Homo sapiens: one gene and its partners. The protein of the gene in region 1 interacts with the protein of each later gene in a pairwise test. Each region holds a gene or a part of one and is shown in the gene's direction. Other genes may lie near its edges. The genes, in order: GTF2IRD1, PKP1 and ZC4H2.

The links.
Region 2: the proteins of GTF2IRD1 (region 1) and PKP1 interact in a two-hybrid assay, tested with the Homo sapiens proteins (one study listed by BioGRID and IntAct).
Region 3: the proteins of GTF2IRD1 (region 1) and ZC4H2 interact in a two-hybrid assay, tested with the Homo sapiens proteins (one study listed by BioGRID and IntAct).

Annotation. Positions count from the first base shown.
Region 1 is NC_000007.14:74,512,902-74,516,648, forward strand, and holds part of GTF2IRD1 (general transcription factor II-I repeat domain-containing protein 1), read left to right. Parts: coding exon 1-70; intron 71-2,443; coding exon of another isoform or gene 2,444-2,539; coding exon 2,540-2,695; intron 2,696-3,747. UniProt on the Homo sapiens protein: May be a transcription regulator involved in cell-cycle progression and skeletal muscle differentiation. May repress GTF2I transcriptional functions, by preventing its nuclear residency, or by inhibiting its transcriptional activation.
Region 2 is NC_000001.11:201,321,407-201,325,153, forward strand, and holds part of PKP1 (plakophilin-1), read left to right. Parts: intron 1-571; coding exon 572-727; intron 728-1,606; coding exon 1,607-1,783; intron 1,784-3,021; coding exon 3,022-3,175; intron 3,176-3,534; coding exon 3,535-3,721; intron 3,722-3,747. UniProt on the Homo sapiens protein: A component of desmosome cell-cell junctions which are required for positive regulation of cellular adhesion.
Region 3 is NC_000023.11:64,920,704-64,924,450, reverse strand, and holds part of ZC4H2 (zinc finger C4H2 domain-containing protein), read left to right. Parts: intron 1-2,207; exon of another isoform or gene 2,208-2,462; coding exon 2,463-2,634; intron 2,635-3,747. UniProt on the Homo sapiens protein: Plays a role in interneurons differentiation. Involved in neuronal development and in neuromuscular junction formation.

The DNA of each region.
Region 1 (3,747 bases):
GGCACAGAGAAGGGGAGAATGTTCCTGAATGCCCGGAAGGAGCTACAGTCAGACTTCCTCAGGTTCTGCCGTGAGTACCCCAGGGCTCCGGAGGGCCGGGCCCGCCATTTCCCGAGGGCAGGCGCTCTAGCCCATCTCTGGGTCCCCAACCCTGTCTAGCCAGGGTGGCGGTGTGTGGGGAGTGAACCTAACAAGCTAGGTTGTCTGAGATTCCCGATGTGGTGTTATTGAGGCAGCCCCTGAGTTGATAGAGACTGGCTGGGTGAACCCCAGGGTAGGCCAGAGCCAGCCACTTCCATCTGCCTTTTCCAGATGGGGACACCAAGGCCAAGGCTGCTGCTCAGTTCTTCCTCTTAACTATGTATTCCTGAACACAAGGACCAAATGCACTTATGCCAACACAATTTTTTTTTTCTTTAAATGAGACAGAGTCTTGCCCTGTCACCCAGGCTGGAGTGCAGTGGCACAATTTTGGCTCACTGCAACCTCTGCCTCCCAGGTTCAAGTGATTCTCCTGCCTCAGCTTCCCGAGCAGCTGGGATTACAGGCACCTACCACCACGCCCAACTAATTTTGTATTTTTAGTAGAGACGGGGTTTCACCTTGTTGGCCAGGCTGGTCTCGAACTCCTGACCTCAGGTGACCCGCCCACCTCAGCCTCCCAAAGTGCTGGGATTACAGATGTGAGCCGCCATGCCTGGCCATGTTCCAATAAGATTTATTGAATGCCTGCTGTACATAGCATCTTTTCTGATGCTAACTCACCTACCCTGACATCAACCTGAGGGGGCAGGCACTGTCATGGCTATAGTCAGGGTTAACATCTTAGGCCAGGTGCAGTGGCTCATGTCTGTAGTCCTAGCACTTCGGGAGGCTGAAATGGGAGGATCACTTGAGCCCAGGAGTTGGAGACCAGGCTGGGCAACATAGCAAGGCCTCTGTCTCTACAAAAAATTTAAAAATTAACCAGGCTTGATGGTGTACACCTGTAGTCCCAGCTGCTTGAGAGGCTGAGGCAGGAGGATCACTTGAGCCTGGGAGTTCAAGACTACAGTGAGCTACGATGGCACCCCTGCACTCCAGCCTGGGTGACAGTGAGTCCCCATCTCAAAAGAACCATGGTATAGCATGAGGTTAAGAGAACGGGCCGCCTGGGTCCACAACTGCTGTGCCTCAACCCACTCATCTGTGAAAGGGGAGGACGGGTGGGTCTGAGGGTTAAACGAATTGGTACCTTGCAAGCACTTAGGGCAGTGTCTGGCACTTGGTTCACACTCAATAGACACCAGCTGTTGTTACTATTATTAGTATTCACCTCACACCCCTAAGATCAGCTGTTTCAGGGAAGGGCATCCCCCAGCGCTGGGCCTAGCATTACTGGGGTGCAGCCGCATCCCCAGCCAGCCCCCCACCCCCCTCAGCCCTCAGAGCCTAGACCTTCTCCAGGGCCAGGATGGGGGACTGGGCCGGGTAGAATGGACAGCAGCAGGTCGTGTGGCACCCCAGCCGCCCAGAGCCTGAGGCGGTGCACCTGCCTTCTAGAGCCACGCAGAGCCGCTATTTATAGCACCAGGAACTCGGCTGGTTTATTTCAAGCTCCGCAGATCCCAGAGGAGAATAGGCTCCAAGCTGGGAGGGGGCCGCAGGCCCCTCCTCTCATCTCCTTTCCAATGCAGCTTCTAGAACATTCCCCAAGGATCCACCAACACTCTCCGGTCCCCACCCTGGCCCAGCCTGGCATGAACCTGCTGTTTGCAACCCACGGCCTCCTTGGAGCAGGGGTTGGGGGGTGCCTCCCAACCCTCTGCCGGAGGGTTTTCTCTCCCTCCGGCAGAGCAGAAAACGGTGGCATAGATTGGTCAAGACAGTGTTCGTGTCAGAGCACAGAAAGGCATGGATGGGGCCGGGCATGGTAGCTCACACCTGTAATCCCAGCACTTTGGTCAGGAGTTCGAGACCAGCCTGGCCAACATGGTGAGACCCCATCTCTACTAAAAATACAAAAATTAGCTGGGTAAGGTGGCAGGCGCCTATAATCCCAGCTACTCGGGAGGCTGAGGCAGGAGAATCACTTGAACCCTGGAGGTGGAGGTTGTAGTGAGCCAAGCTTGTGCCACTGCACTCCAGCCTGGGCAACAGAGCGAGACTCTGTCTCAAAAAAAAAAAAAAAAAAAAAAATAGAAAGACACAGATGGAACATTCATCGAACCTCAGTTCTGAGCTGGAATAGCTGGCCTCCCGTGAACATTCACAGACTGAGGCTCAGAGAGAGAAGGGACTAACCCAAGGTCACACAGCAAATTAGAGGTGACCAGAGGTGAGGCCCAGCCCTGGGAACTCTGAGATGACCAGCCCTGGCCCTCAGTGGGGTGGTTGGAATAGGGCTTGCTCACTCATTAATTCTTCATTCATTCATTCACTTGTGTATCACATTGTGTGCCAGTCTCCGCAGCTCAGCACAGGGCAGCGACATCCCAGCTCGAAGGCCGGGTGGTGAGACGGGTGCTCACTGTGGCCTCGCGTGCTCTGTGTCCCACAGGAGGGCCCCCGTGGAAGGATCCGGAGGCAGAGCACCCCAAGAAGGTGCAGCGGGGCGAGGGTGGAGGCCGTAGCCTCCCTCGGTCCTCCCTGGAACATGGCTCAGATGTGTACCTTCTGCGGAAGATGGTAGAGGAGGTGTTTGATGTTCTTTATAGTAAGATCCTTCCTCATTCCATTTGGGGGCCCCAGGGAGGGTGGGAGCCTCGGTCCCCACCCAGCAGAGGGGGCCCCCTCCTGTCCCACTATGGGCCCTGGGCAAAGCCGGACCCCAAGGCATGGGGCTACTGGCTACCCCAGCCCTTCCTCATCTCTGCATTCCCAGACACAGAAGTTCTGCTCCAGCCGTTTTCCAAACCTCCACCCCTACTGTCCCTGCCCTGGCTCAAGTCACTGCCACCTCTCGCCTAGAAATAGCCCCAGGCTTGCCACGGTCTCCCTGCTTCCAGACCAGCTCTCTACACCTGCCCTGCAACCAAGGGTATCTTCTCAAAGCACAAGTCTGATCATTAATGAAGCTCTTCTCTCCACAGCCTTCGGGGGCTCCCCATCACCCTGAGCATGGCACAGGGGCCCACACACCCATCCTCATCCCCTCCACACCTTCTTCTCCCACTAGGTGACAGGGCCCTACTGACCTCTCTACAGAACCACTTCCAGTTCTCCAGCACTCGCTGGTGCATTTCACATGCCCTGGACTTCGCGCTGTTACATCTTTTGAGACTGCCTTTCCCCTCCTGTGTCTGGCAGACACCTGCGTGGCACTGAGGCTCTGCTCCTGGAAGCCCCCTCACAGTGGGTTTAGGCCCCTCTCTTGGCACCCACAGTGCCCTGTCCCCTCTCCAGCCCAAGAGCTCTCCAGAGTCAGGGGCTGTGTCTGCCCTTTCTAGCTGTCTCCAGCCTACAGTTCAGAGCCCAGCAACAGCAGGTGCTTGGAGAATGTTTGTTGAATGACTAAGTGAAGGCTGATTGCTCAGCCATGTCTTTCCTGCAGGAAGAGGAGACCTGGCCTCCCTTGGGAAGCGTCAGGTTGCAGAGGGCCTCAGGGCCCCAGTGGTGGTCTTCACACGCCCTGGGAAACATCGGGCAGGTCCCTTTGGTGCTCAGGGTCCCACCTCATTCATTTCTGATTTGGCTTTATCCCTTCTCCTACTGTAGCCTTTGGTTTTATGGAGCAAAGGTCTGTGAGGAAACTTCTGCTGTTCTTAT
Region 2 (3,747 bases), on another chromosome or scaffold:
AGCTGCCATGATGAAGCCCTGGGCTCCAGGTGTTGCTGTGTTTTGTGTGGACTTAGCACCGCTGACATTGACAGCTAAGGACTGGCCCCAGGAAGAAAGAATGATGGGGGCACTAGATGGCTTTGGAATCTAGAGGCATGGGGCTTCTTCTGGAGGAGTTTGTTCTGGAAAAAAAAAAAGACACATTCTTCAATATCCCAGTCTGCCCATTGGCATGTTGTCCATAGCAGTCCTACCACACACTAGGCCCTGTGATAAGTGCTTTCTCTGTATCATCTTCCAAATAGCCTAGTGAAATGGACAATTGTAGTCTCATTTTACATTTGAGATAGCTGAGGCCCAGAGAAGTGAGGCCAGTCAAGTTCATGCAGCCAGGAAATGACAGATTCAAACTCAGGTCCCAGAGGTGGCCCTGGAAGACTTCCCAGGCTGATAGTGTGGTGGTGCCTGCGCTCATCTTTCCCGATGCAGCCCAGGTGCCTCTGCTCTCTTATTAGCTAGGGTAGGTGGTAGGCCAGGAGCCTGTCGGGCCGGGCAGAGGCTCAGGCCCATGCCTCTCCTTGGTCCCCAGTCTGTGGAAAACTGCATGTGTGTTCTGCACAACCTCTCCTACCGCCTGGACGCCGAGGTGCCCACCCGCTACCGCCAGCTGGAGTATAACGCCCGCAACGCCTACACCGAGAAGTCCTCCACTGGCTGCTTCAGCAACAAGAGCGACAAGATGATGGTGAGCACAGCATCAGCAGGGCGGGGCCTGCCCCATCAAGCACCCCCCCAGGAGCCACTGCCTCATCTGCCCTTTCCTCTGGGCCCTCCTGGAGCCTGAAGCCAGCCCTAAGGGACAGGCCCATGCTGACACCTTGGCCTGGGGCTCAGGGTGCACTCTGGGAGCTGGGTAGAGGCCATTCATCTTGCACAAGGGGGAATCTGTTCTTGGAACTGTAGGGGCTCAGACCACCTTAGAGGTCAAAAACTCCAGCCTTCTGTTTGCAGGCCTTGGTCTTTCTTCCTGTATAGTGGGTCAAGTCTCCCCCATCTTCTCCCTTGCCCTTGAGGATCTGAGGAAAGCCAGAACTCTCACTCTTTCTGGCCTTGGTTCCCACCATCTCCTGAGCCCTGCCAGGTTTCCCCAGAAGCAGAAGCCTACCAGGGATGGGTTGTCAGGTCTCCTTCACTGGGCCCAGCTGTGGAATCCAGGTCTCAGACCACCCTCTTTGGCCCAGGGTGGGTCAAACCTACTGTCTGAGTCTGGAAGAGGAGGAAGCATCATGATGGGAGAGTCCAAAGCAGCCCCACATATCTGGAAGGTTTGGGCCAAGGCTGCCCTGGAACACAGCTCCCAAGATGCCAGGATGCTCTCTTCTCCCACATCCTGGGACAGTCTGGGGGACCATGGCCCATTCCTGCATCCCATGGAGCTGCTGCAGTGCATAGAGGAAAGGGGTGCAGCGGGGCTGTCCTGGGCCCCCTGCCTCTGCAGGCGCTTCCTCAGCTTGCCCTATCTGGAACCACGACCCTGAGGCTGGGGGGATGGGGACAGAATGCCTGGGTTGTGTCCTCTCACAAGGCTCCCCATTGACCCCCCTGACCGGCTCTTTATCCTCAGAACAACAACTATGACTGCCCCCTGCCTGAGGAAGAGACCAACCCCAAGGGCAGCGGCTGGTTGTACCATTCAGATGCCATCCGCACCTACCTGAACCTCATGGGCAAGAGCAAGAAAGATGCTACCCTGGAGGCCTGTGCTGGTGCCCTGCAGAACCTGACAGCCAGCAAGGGGCTGGTGAGTGGGACTGTACCTTCTCTACTGCAGCAGCCCCATCCTCCAGCCACCGTCCAGCCTCTGCTCCCTCCTTTTCCCCCCAGCCTGTCCCCTGACTTCGGAGCCTCCCATGAGCAGAGTGTGCCTGGCATATGCTGGGCTCTGGGCTGGGCAATGGGGAAACACTCCTGCCCTTTAGGAGCTGCTGGGGGATGCAGAGAGGGTGGGCCCACTGATGCTGGATTCTGTCCATGCACACACAATCCCCTTGGCCACATGGCTCCCGGTCCCCAGCTGGCCTCCTGGGCTCTGCTTGAGGTCGGGGAATGCGGCGGAGAAGGTGTTTGGCAAAAGGAGTTTCCCATTTGTTGAACTGACAAAGGTGGAAAAAGAGGGTTTGGGGTCCAAGCAGGTCCAGAGAAGATGTGACAGAATCCGTGCAGATGTTGAGGCCAAATGTATGTAGCTTGGAGGGCACAGTGGTATGGGGCAGAGCCAGAGGAAACCTGTTGCAATCAAGAAGAGTTGAGATGGGCCAGGCGGCCAACTGTTCTTCAGCTTTACTTAGGAAAAGGGAACCGAGCAGCAGCAGCACTAGAGTAGACCGAGGGCAGAGAACTTCCCTGGCTGTGAGGAGAGAGGCTGGGCAGTTCTGAGAATGCCAAACCCACCTAGACCTGTTACACCCAGGATAGCTATGTTGCTTAGAGGCCTGGGCGAACTGGCCTACCTCTAGGGGACCCCAGTTCTCTCTCCATGTGGGCCCAGACCCTTTCTTAGCCCTCTTTTCTCAGGCAAGCCCTCAACAAATATGTGTTGGATTCTAAAGAGGTAGGAAAGTTGGAAGAAGATGGCCAGATGTTTAATTGACAAATACCCTTGACCATATAGTTTCACATGGGCAGATAGCGTGGGGAGATGTAATGGGGGCAGCGCTGAGACAGTGGGGTGAGAGAGCAGCATTGGACGCTTGGGTTACTCTGGAAGCTAACTCTGGGTCACTATGAGTAGGGGAAATGAGACTTCCCTCTCTCCACCCATCTGGGCTGCAGGCTGATCCAGGAGACAGGATCAGGGCTGGGAAAGGGGAGGTGCATGTTAGCCTAGGTTTCTGTAGTTGCCCACATGTGAGCTAGTGCTTCCAATATGAAAGAGAAAGGGTTCTGGGATGTCTGCCTTTGGGGCTCCTTGCCCCTTTCTGCCTGCCATGGTGCCTGGGAAGCCACAGGCTAGCTCATCATCTACTCCTTCTCTCTTAGATGTCCAGTGGCATGAGCCAGTTGATTGGGCTGAAGGAAAAGGGCCTGCCACAAATTGCCCGCCTCCTGCAATCTGGCAACTCTGATGTGGTGCGGTCCGGAGCCTCCCTCCTGAGCAACATGTCCCGCCACCCTCTGCTGCACAGAGTGATGGGTAAGGTCCCTCTCTCTCCTCCCCCTCTAGCTAAGACATGGCAGGCTCCCTACAATTCAAGCCTGCTTGAAGGTCATCCTTTAAGCCATTCCCTGGGATGAGCATTCCAAGAAAGGAAGCTGGCCAAAGACAGGTATGGAGACAGGAGAAGGGAGCCTGTCACCTGAGGGCTGGGAGCAGATCTGCAAAAGTCCTATCTGGGTCTCTGAGCCCTGAGTTGGAGCTGCCAGGAAGCCCTGAGGGCCACCTGGCTCAGAGCCCGGCAGAAGGCTATCGAAGAGTGTGGCCCCAGAGGGAACCCCTCAGCCCTTCCTTCCCCAGTCATCCTGACCCTGTGCCCCAACTCGTTCCTCTCCCAGGGAACCAGGTGTTCCCGGAGGTGACCAGGCTCCTCACCAGCCACACTGGCAATACCAGCAACTCCGAAGACATCTTGTCCTCGGCCTGCTACACTGTGAGGAACCTGATGGCCTCGCAGCCACAACTGGCCAAGCAGTACTTCTCCAGCAGCATGCTCAACAACATCATCAACCTGTGCCGAAGCAGGTGGGCGGGGGGTTGCTCCCACGGGC
Region 3 (3,747 bases), on another chromosome or scaffold:
GTCTATATACTGTCTTGTTCTCTGCTCTATCCCTAGTACCTAGTACAATGAATGCCTGGCACATGATAAGTATTCAATAAATAATTATTGACTGAATATATATTGAAACCCTCTATAATTAATACATAGTAAGTGCTCAATAAATATAGTTAAAATACAGTTGTTATTATTGTCCAAAAGCAAATAGTTAATCAGAGGCAGAACCAGGATTTATAATTGAAGTCTGAGTCTAAAGCGCATGCTTCTTTTATGATATGACTTTGTCTGCAGAAATAGGTTCTTGGCCCAGCACTGCCCTAACTGGTTGTATGACACTTAGGGTGAGACACTATACTACTCTGAATCTTAGTTTTCCCATCGGTAAAATGGTTACAGGAGCAGGCAAAGTTCAGGTTTATCTTCACGTAACCTAGAAAAGGAGGAGAATAGAAGTCTAGATAGATGGGGATATAAGCAAATAAGTAATTAACCAATACAAATCAGTATCTTCCCTCTGCAAGACAGTTGATGAGCTATAACAAGAACCCTTGATGTTTTTATGCCCTTCAGCCTGGTAACCCTGTTCAAAGGCAATATAGAGTAGTGGATGGTATGGATGGTATGTAGGCTTTGGTGTTAGAGAGCCCTGGTTCAAATCCCAACATCCAATTTACTAGCTCTGTGGTACTGGGCAAGTTACCACCCTGAACCTCACTCAATTCCCTTCTCTACAAATGGGATAACACCCACCTTTTAACCCATTTCTAAGGTTACAAAAAAAAAAAAAATACAATAACATGAAAAGATGTTTTCTTAGTATAGAAAGAGAAACTTCTCCCACCATCCTACCCACCTAACAGTTCTTTCTGTAGTTCTGTGCCATTGAAGGCTACCTCTTGAGGCAAGAGGCACAGGCAATGTCAAGAAAAGAGAGACTGAAGACAAGCAGGCTGATGGCAGAAGCCAGAGTCCAGTGTGTGGAGTTGGATCACCCATAGGATAGACTGGGGCAGAGGGGAAGATCAGCTACTGAGGGAGAAGAAAGGAGACTACAAATCTGAGTAAGGGGATAATGGCTAGGCAGATCCTGAGAAGCATGGTAGGGAGCCAGTGGGAAGACAACAACATGCCTTAGAGGGTACCCCTTTCAAAACTTTGTAGCCCTTTCCCAGAGGCAGGCTTCAAATTATGTTATTAAAGGCCCTTGAAACTGTGTTTCTTCCAAATCTTTTTCTTATTTAGTCACATCCATGTATGTTTTGAAATTGTAATCTTAGTGTGTACACTTTTTCAGCGAGTATCTTATCTTCAACATTTTCTATGTCACAAGTCTTCAGTGGCTGTCAAATATCCTAATTTTGCTGAAAGCCCAGAAAGTACACCTCTGTGTATTAACTTTTTGCTTCCTTGAATTACCTCCTTAAAATATATTCCCAAGTATAGGATTCCTGAGCCACACGGTATACAATTGGGATTTAATGACCAAAACCAGGTTTTTCTTTTTCTAAGAAAGAAATTACCCATAATATCCTTTCCCCTTCCTTTTCTGGAACTGATAAACACACCCTCTAGAGTTGTGCTGTCTAATATGACAGCCAGTAGCCACACGTGGCTGTTTAAATTTTAAGTTTGATTAAATAAAATTCAAAACTCAGTTCCTCAGTAGCACTGGCCACATCACAAGTGCTCAGTAGCCATATGTGCATAGTGGCTATTATACTGGACAGCACAGATACAAAACATTTCCATCACTGTAGTAAGTTTATTGGACAGTGCTTACTTAGAGTTTCTCAAGAGATCATTTTTGGTTTCTTGGGTGGGAGTTCTTTGTGTTCAGGACTTTCCTGGGCATTGAGAGGCTATTTAGCATCTCTGGCCCATGTCCACTAAATGCCAGTAACACATTTCCTTGAGTCAATCTAACAGCCAAAACACTCCATATTTGCAAATGCCCCATAAGGGAACAAAATTAACCCCATTCGAGACCCACTGAGCTTTTAGAGGGAAACATCTCCTAACTTTTTCTTGAGACAAGGTCTTGCTCTGTCACCTAGGTTGGAGTGCAGTAGTGCAATCATAGCTTAAGCAATCCTCCTGCCTTATCCTCCTGAGTAGTTGAGACTACTGGCATGTACCACCATGTGTGGCTAATTCTTTCTTTCTTTCTTTCTTTTTCTTTTTCTTTTTCTTTTTTTTTTCTTTTTTCTTTTTCTTTTTTTTTTTTGTAGATATAAGGTCTCACTATGTTGCCCATGCTGGTTTCAAACTCCTGGGCTCAAGTGATCCTCCTGCCTCTGTCTTCCAAATTGCTGAGATTACTGGCATGAGCCATTGCACCTGGCCTTCTTTTTTGAGATGGCCTCAGGTTGGCTCTGCCTGGAGAGGGGGAAGCTTGTAAAGATGGCTTAGAAAAAAAGTCCTGGCTCCATTTCTATTTTCTCCCTTCTTTTGCTGGCCTGTTTCCTGCTTTTTGCAAATTGCAGGAACAAGACCCTGCAGATGGAGAAGATCAAGGCTCGTTTGAAGGCTGAGTTTGAGGCACTTGAGTCAGAGGAAAGGCACCTGAAGGAATACAAGCAGGAGATGGACCTTCTGCTACAGGAGAAGATGGCCCATGTGGAGGAACTCCGACTGATCCACGCTGACATCAATGTGGTACGTGGCTGCCTGGAGCCTATCTCTAAAGCCTTTGAGAAAGAGGTAGTGGTGAATGATAGGGCCTTTCCTTGAGATGTGGCTTAGGCCTAGCTCGGGGAGCAGGCATCAGTGCAGGCTGTGGTAGAGCAGAAGAATTCAGGAGTTCTGAGATCCAGCCCTGGCTCTGTCACTAACTGACTATATATCACTGGACAAGTCCCTTCTCTCTGGGCCTCATTTTCCCTCTCTGCACTATAAGGGGGACTCAGTACCCTCTAAATGTACTGATTTGATGTGCTCTCATTCTGGGATTCTGGGAGTTGAGAGCTAGCCTTGGGGAAAAGCAGAGCAGGCAGCTGCCTCTGGAATGTAGTTTAAAGCACTCCAAGCTTTCAGTCAGACCAAACAAATCATTTCTGCCTGCTACCAAAGTGGAGCTTCCTCATTGATATATCCTTTGGAAACTCTTGGAACACAGAATATGAACTGTCTGCTAAGGTGGTAAGCTCCCCTCTTTGGAATTATTCAAGCAGCATCTTAATGGACACTTGTATGAGCTACTGTACTGATGATTCCTTCACAAGGAAGGAGGTTGGCAGTGCTGACCAGTAAGGTCTTTTCAAACCCTTATCACCCATAACCATGAAGAATATATTTTTAAAATTTACTTTCAAAGGAACTAAGTTTATATTTCTGGAAAACTCATTTCTGTGGCAATACTCATTTTCTGATGTTGTCAGACCTAGGATCATAAAGGAAATATGAATGAGGTTTGGACAGTAAGCAATTGGGATTTTCTGTGTTAGAGATCGCAGAATTCTAGATCTCATAAAGTGTTGACAGTTTGGCTGCCAGCTAACCAATGATACAGGGCCAGTTAAATGAGGAAGATATTTGCCAGAAGGGCTAAGAATATAAGCCAGTGGATCTCAAACTTGAGCATGCATCAAAGCCACTTTGAGAGCCTAAGACACATATTGCTAGACTCCACCCCTGATTTTCTGATTTTGTATGTCTGAGGTGAACCTAAGAATATGCATTTCTGAGTTCCCAGGTGATGCTGATGCTGCTGATCCCTTGGCCACATTTTGAGAATCACTGATCTAGGAGAAAAGACTGCTGGCCTGGGAG